2 separate regions of the Homo sapiens genome follow, and region 1 is linked to region 2. Evidence: fine-mapped expression QTL. A gene starts in region 2. The other region holds a variant in brackets. All regions are shown on one strand. Distances are between the middles of the regions. Region 1 overlaps MR1 (major histocompatibility complex, class I-related). Region 2 holds the start of MR1 (major histocompatibility complex, class I-related).

The links. PIP is the estimated chance that this variant, and not a neighbour inherited with it, causes the effect.
Region 1: its variant is fine-mapped to the expression of MR1 in monocytes (Kim-Hellmuth 2017, PIP 0.95).

Annotation. Positions count from the first base shown.
Region 1 is chr1:181,054,317-181,057,230 of GRCh38, forward strand. It overlaps MR1 (major histocompatibility complex, class I-related), which reads left to right. Exons shown (of 6, transcript NM_001385161.1): 6 at 909-2,914. The coding sequence ends at 949. Among named protein-coding and RNA genes, the nearest start is that of MR1, 22 kb to the left of the region's middle. The variant T/C (reference allele first, on the strand shown) is at 1,658.
Region 2 is chr1:181,032,279-181,035,192 of GRCh38, forward strand. MR1 (major histocompatibility complex, class I-related) reads left to right here and starts at 1,705. Exons shown (of 6, transcript NM_001385161.1): 1 at 1,705-1,796. The coding sequence starts at 1,730. RefSeq lists enhancers at 885-1,074, 1,275-1,374, 1,505-1,614.

The sequences.
Region 1 (2,914 bases), 22 kb after region 2:
CAGATACGATCCCTGTTTTCATAGAGCTTACAATAGAGCCTGGTAAGGTTATCTCCTGGCTCTGGCTTCACTAATTGCTCAAATTGATCACAGGATAGTACCGATGAGACCATGCTTTGAACCCAAAGTGGACCAGAAGTTTGGTTTTCCTTCATAGACATAGACCTCAACTCCAATTCAGGTGATAACTGTACAAAAGCATGTTGTTAGATCAAAGTAAAACCAACCCTTTTACTAGAAAATCAGCTCAGAGGCCGGGCGTGGTGGCTTACAACTTGTAATCCCAGCACTTTGAGAGGCCGAGGCAGGCGGATCACTTGAGGTCAGGAGTTCGAGATCAGCCTGGCCAACATGGTGAAACCCTGCCTCTACTGAAAATATTAAAAAAAAAAAAATTAGCTGGGCGTGGTGGCACATGCCTGTAATCTCAGCTACTCAGGAGGCTGAGACAGGAGAATCGCTTGAACCTGGGAGGCGGAGGTTGCCGTGAGCAAAGATCGCTCCATTGCACTCCAGCCTGGGCAGCAAGAGCGAGACTCTGTCTCAAAAAAGAAAAAAGAAAAGAAAAGAAAAGAAAATCAGCTCAGAGAGTTAATGGGTTGTTAATGTTTTCTTTATAGATAAAGTACAGCACTAATCCTAATCCAATAAATGATAGTGAAACAAACAAAAAATTTTTTTACAATGACATCCCTCTCTCAATAATTATACAGACTGTGAGTTCCTGCTTTTTATCTTATAGAGTTTACAAATTTGAGCTAAAGTTTGTCAAGTACTAAGAGAATCTTGACAAAGCAAGCTAAAACTGTCGATGCCTGTTTCTCAGATTTTGCTGAACACTGCATACTTTATTTTTGAGCTGTGAGGAAACATTCTTGTAATCTGACTAAAAACCCCTTTCCTTTCAGAGCAAAATGGAGCCATCTACCTTCCAACACCAGATCGATGATTGCAGATCCCTCTTTTCCAGTTCTCCTTCCTCTAGGAGCCATGTTATCCTCTGTCCCCCATAGAGTCAAGCCTAGTGCTTGAAGGTCCTGACGACACCCACAACATACATGAGAGTAATGGGATTGAGCATTTATGGCAGCAACAGAGGAGCCACAAAATGTTCTTTGTTCTTTGGCTCCAAAAAGACTGTCAGCTTTCAGTCTCTTTTGATGGACTGTTTTATCAGAGTTGACTTTAAATACAGCTTGTCTCATGACACAACGCTTCCCTACATTCTATTTGTCAATGATGATTTGCAACTAGTTGGAGATTCTCAGAGCAGGAAGGAATCTTTTCAACCAGAGCAGGAACTGTCTTCTGCAATGCCTTGGACTTGAGCCTCCAGCCTCCACTTGAACACCATGTGAAGGGAACCTCAGTACTTCATAAAATGGCCTTTCTCATTCATCTTTCATGGGAACATTTATTGTACAAGCGCTTTGAATATCATGGGCACCATGACTGTGACCCTACAGGTAGGATTGGATCACTCCATGAGAGTAGCCGGCAGGTTTCTACAATGGCCTGGGAATGGACTGATTATTTTTATACATTTTCTGGCCTGAGAGAAAGCCAAAGTCCCCTGCTGTTCACAGCAACCCTGCCTGGGAGCTTGGAATCTTGGTAATCTGCCCGGTTGGATCTATGGAGGTAGTCTCACCCTTTT[T/C]GTCTTTTGTGGGAAATTAAGAGAAATAATTATCAGACATATCATCACCTCCAGTGGAACTACAGAGACCTGGACCCAGCTGCACTATTTTAATGTAAAAATAACAGTATGGCCAGGTGCAGTGGCTCACGCCTGTAATCCCATCACTTTGAGCAGCCAAGGCGGGCGGATCACGAGGTCAGGAGATTAAGACCATCCTGGCCAATATGGTGAAACCCTGTCTCTACTAAAATACAAAAAATTAGCTGGGCATGGTGTTGCGTGCCTGTAGTCCCAGCTACTTGGGAGGCTGAGACAGGGGAATTGCTTGAACCCGGGAGGCAGAGATTGCAGTGAGCCGAGATCACGCCACTGCACTCCAGCCTGGCGACAGAGTGAGACTCTATCTCAAAATAATAATAATAATAATAATAATAATAATAATAATAATAACAGTATATTTGGTGTCAGGAGAGGGCTCAATTCTCATTTCTGCCTTTCCTGTGCTGGCTCATGGTAGCTGGGCATGACTTGCCTTCCTACATAGGTTGTCTTCATACATATGCACTGGGAATCAATAAAAGCCCATGGTGAGAATGAACATCCCCTTAATGTTCCTTACTATCCCCAACCCCTGAGGCCTCACCTACTGCCCTGCCATGTGGAGCTACTTGCCCTGGGGCTGCCAGTCACACATTCCTCGGTCCTACTTCTCTGACCCCGTTTGACTCTGCACCTGAGCCCTAATGCTTACTTCAGTGACCTGAACTTTGACAAGTGGCTTTTGTCCTGCACCTCAGGTTTGACCTCTGCTCTCCCTTGACCTTGACTGTGACATTTGACCTTTGGCTTTAATCATTACAGCCTCAGATAAAGGTACCTTCAGCCCGGGCACAGTGGCTCACGCCTGTAATCCTAGCACTTTGGGAGGCTGAGGCAGGCGGATTCCCTGAGCTCAGGAGTTCAAGACCAGCCTGGGCAACACGGTGAAACCCTGTCTCTACTAAAATACAAATAATTAGCTGGGCATGGTGGCATGTGCCTATAGTCCCAGCTACTTGGGAGGCTAAGGCAGGAGAATCACTTGAATCTATAAGGCAGAGGTGGCAGTGAGCCGAGATCACACCACTGCACTCCAGCCTGGGCAACGGAGCAAGACTCTGTCTCCAAAAAAAAAAAGAAAGATACCCTCAGTGTGCCAGGCCTCTAAGAGCTCACCTGCCAGGCTTCCTCCTTGCTCCACTGTCCCATGTAATTCCATATATGAAGCTACCACTG
Region 2 (2,914 bases):
AAAAATTCAAAGGAAAAAATACATGGCCATGGAATTCCAGTGCTGAGAGACATTTGGGAATATTGGGGGAGTTTTCCAAAAGAGAAATCCAGGTGACTGTATTTGTTAAATGAGTAACAAAAGGAAAAACAATGTAAAGAAACAGAAAGGAAAGGAAGAGAGAAATACAAAGATCTGAGAAGAGAAGGTGCCAGGGGCCGCTGAGAGATTGCCAAATGTTAATTTCATTATTTGGCTTCTTATTTTATTCTGGGTAAAGGTAGACCTATTAGTTTCCTGTTGCTGCTATAACAAATTACCACCAACTTAGTGGCCTCGAACAATGCAAATTTATTCTTTCAAAGTTCTGGAGGACAGAAGTCCAAAAATGTGTCCTATCAGCTGAAATCAAAGTGTTGTGTTCCTTCTGGAGGCTCTAAGGAGAATCTGTTCCTTCTCTTTTCTAGTTCTAGAGGCCATCTGCGTTCCTTGGCTCATGTCCTTCTTTCAGCAATGGCATCATCACTCTGACCTTTGCTTCCATTGTCACATCTCCTTGACTCTGACCCTTTTGCCTCCCTCTAATAAGGCCCCTCTGATTACACTGGGTCCACCAGATAATCCAGGATAGCTCTCTGTCTCAAGATCCTTAATTTAATCATATCTGCCAAGGGTTTTGTTTTGTTTTATTTTGTTTTTGCCATTTAAGGTAATATATCCACAGGTTCTGGCAATTAGGTTGTGGACATCTTTGGGGCGACAATTCTCAACCTACCATACAACCGGTACATAAGGTTCTACTACCTACTAAATGCATCATAAACAGAACTTCTGATCCTTCAACAACTCTGTGAAATATATGACAGGATTTGCTTTTAAAGTTGAAGAAATCAGGCCTTGGTGCAATTTGGGATTCTGCCCATGGTCAAATAGTGGGGAGGCAAACCCAGGTCCCTGAACCCAGCTCAAGCCTGCCTGCCTCATGGCCATGCCTCCATTCACCTCTCCCCTTCATGTCTACTTCCTCTTTCCTGTCTGGGCCTGTTCCCTAGCTCCCTGGACAAGCTTAAGCTGCTGTTTTCCAGCTTGTCATGTGCTCCTTATGACAGTGTAGCCACAGCTTGATCTTGGGGATTGCTGATTGAGCAAGCTGAGTGGCTGCCCCTCAGAATCTTCTGTAGGCCTTTCTCTTGCCTTCTTTTATTCAGTAAGTGTTTTGAGCTTATTGTGCTGGGTGCTAGAGTAGCAGGGAGGACAGACCTAAGTTGAAGATTACGGGACAATCTAAGTGACACCTGCTATCTCAGACAGAGACTTCAGCATCATAGGGAGCCAGAGCAGGGAGTTCCAAGCCGTGGGAACTGTGACTCTTTCTTACTGACCCTTAAGCAAAATTCTAAGCTCCAGGGAAGCAGAGGCAGCAGCTTGAGCTCCCTGATTGACCAGATATGATTAATCTTTGTTTCTCTGTGCTTTGAACATGACTATGCTCCATAAATATTTAAAAATTGGGAATAGGGTGAAGATAGATACACCAAAAGGAGCAAGCAGTGTCTGAAACCAGCAAAGACTTAAAAGTTACCGAAGAAGGTGTTCATGCTTTCATTTTATCTTTTTTTTTTAACCTAGCAACTGATGACACTGCATATCTTCCCCTGTTCTTATTGGGAGAAGGCCTTGTGTGTCACCAAGAGGTTCTCAGAAGGGACCTGTCAGTTTTTGGTTAAAAGAACCCGGAAAGAGAAGGACTATGGGGGAACTGATGGCGTTCCTGTTACCTCTCATCATTGTGTTAATGGTGAAGCACAGCGATTCCCGTGAGTATCCCACGTCCTCTTCTCTCCTAACTCCAAAGTCGAGGCAGCCTAGAAGGCACAGCTTTTCTTCCTAAAACTTGTGGTGAAAAATATAGAAGCCAGGGGCAGAAACGTGTATGTATTACACTCAGACTCCAGGAGCAATGGATTGCCTGAACAGTTTCCCAGTTCATATTTGTAGGATTTTGATGTCACCACCTTCTGAGGGAGGGGGAGCCGTTCTAGAAAGACTCTGGAACTTCCTCACTTTCCCTCTGAGCATGGCCTCCTTTCTTTTCTGCTCATATTTTTTCTTTTACTTTTGTTTCTCCTCTTTTCTAACTTCCAGAGTCTCATGAGGATGTAGTCAGAGTTTCAGGGGCATTAACAGTGGAGTAGATCCATTGTTCAGGTTTATTTATGTTTTTCCTCAACACAAGCCCTACCTGTAATAAAAGATCCAAGAAAGATAAAACCATGGCTCTGGGTTTGTTTACTGACTGTGAGAAGTATTAATCAAGTAGAAGGGAGAGTTTTTCATTATTCGGGGAGCTCAAGTCACTGGGGAAGCAAATGCCTTCTGTTGCCTCAAATAGGGGAAAGGGCCCATGGGCTAGAACCACCAGGCTTCTCTGCCCTAATCACTTGCTCCCTGGGCTGAGGACTGGTACTGGTGGGCAGTGTCCAGAACTTAGACTTGGCCACCACCATAGGTGTGACTGATGAACATGAGAGGAAGGAGTTCTTTCAAATCACCCATGCACATAGAGAGTGGAATGACTGACCATGGAGATTTGGAAGGGCGAGGGGGGTGGATGATTAGAAATTACTTAATGGGTACAATGTGTGTTACTTGGGTGATGGATACCTTAAAGCCCCAACTTGACCACTACACAATCTATGCTATAACAAAATTGCATGTGTACATCATAAATTTATACAAATAAAAAAATTTTAAATCATATGGCTGGGAGTGGTGGCTCACACCTGTAATCCTAGCACGTTGAGAGGCCGAGGCAGACGGATCGCTTGAGGTCAGGAGTTTGAAACCAGCTTGGCCATCATAGTGAAACCCCATCTCACTAAAAATACAAAAAATTAGCTCGGCACACCCATCTCTACTAAAAATACAAAAAATT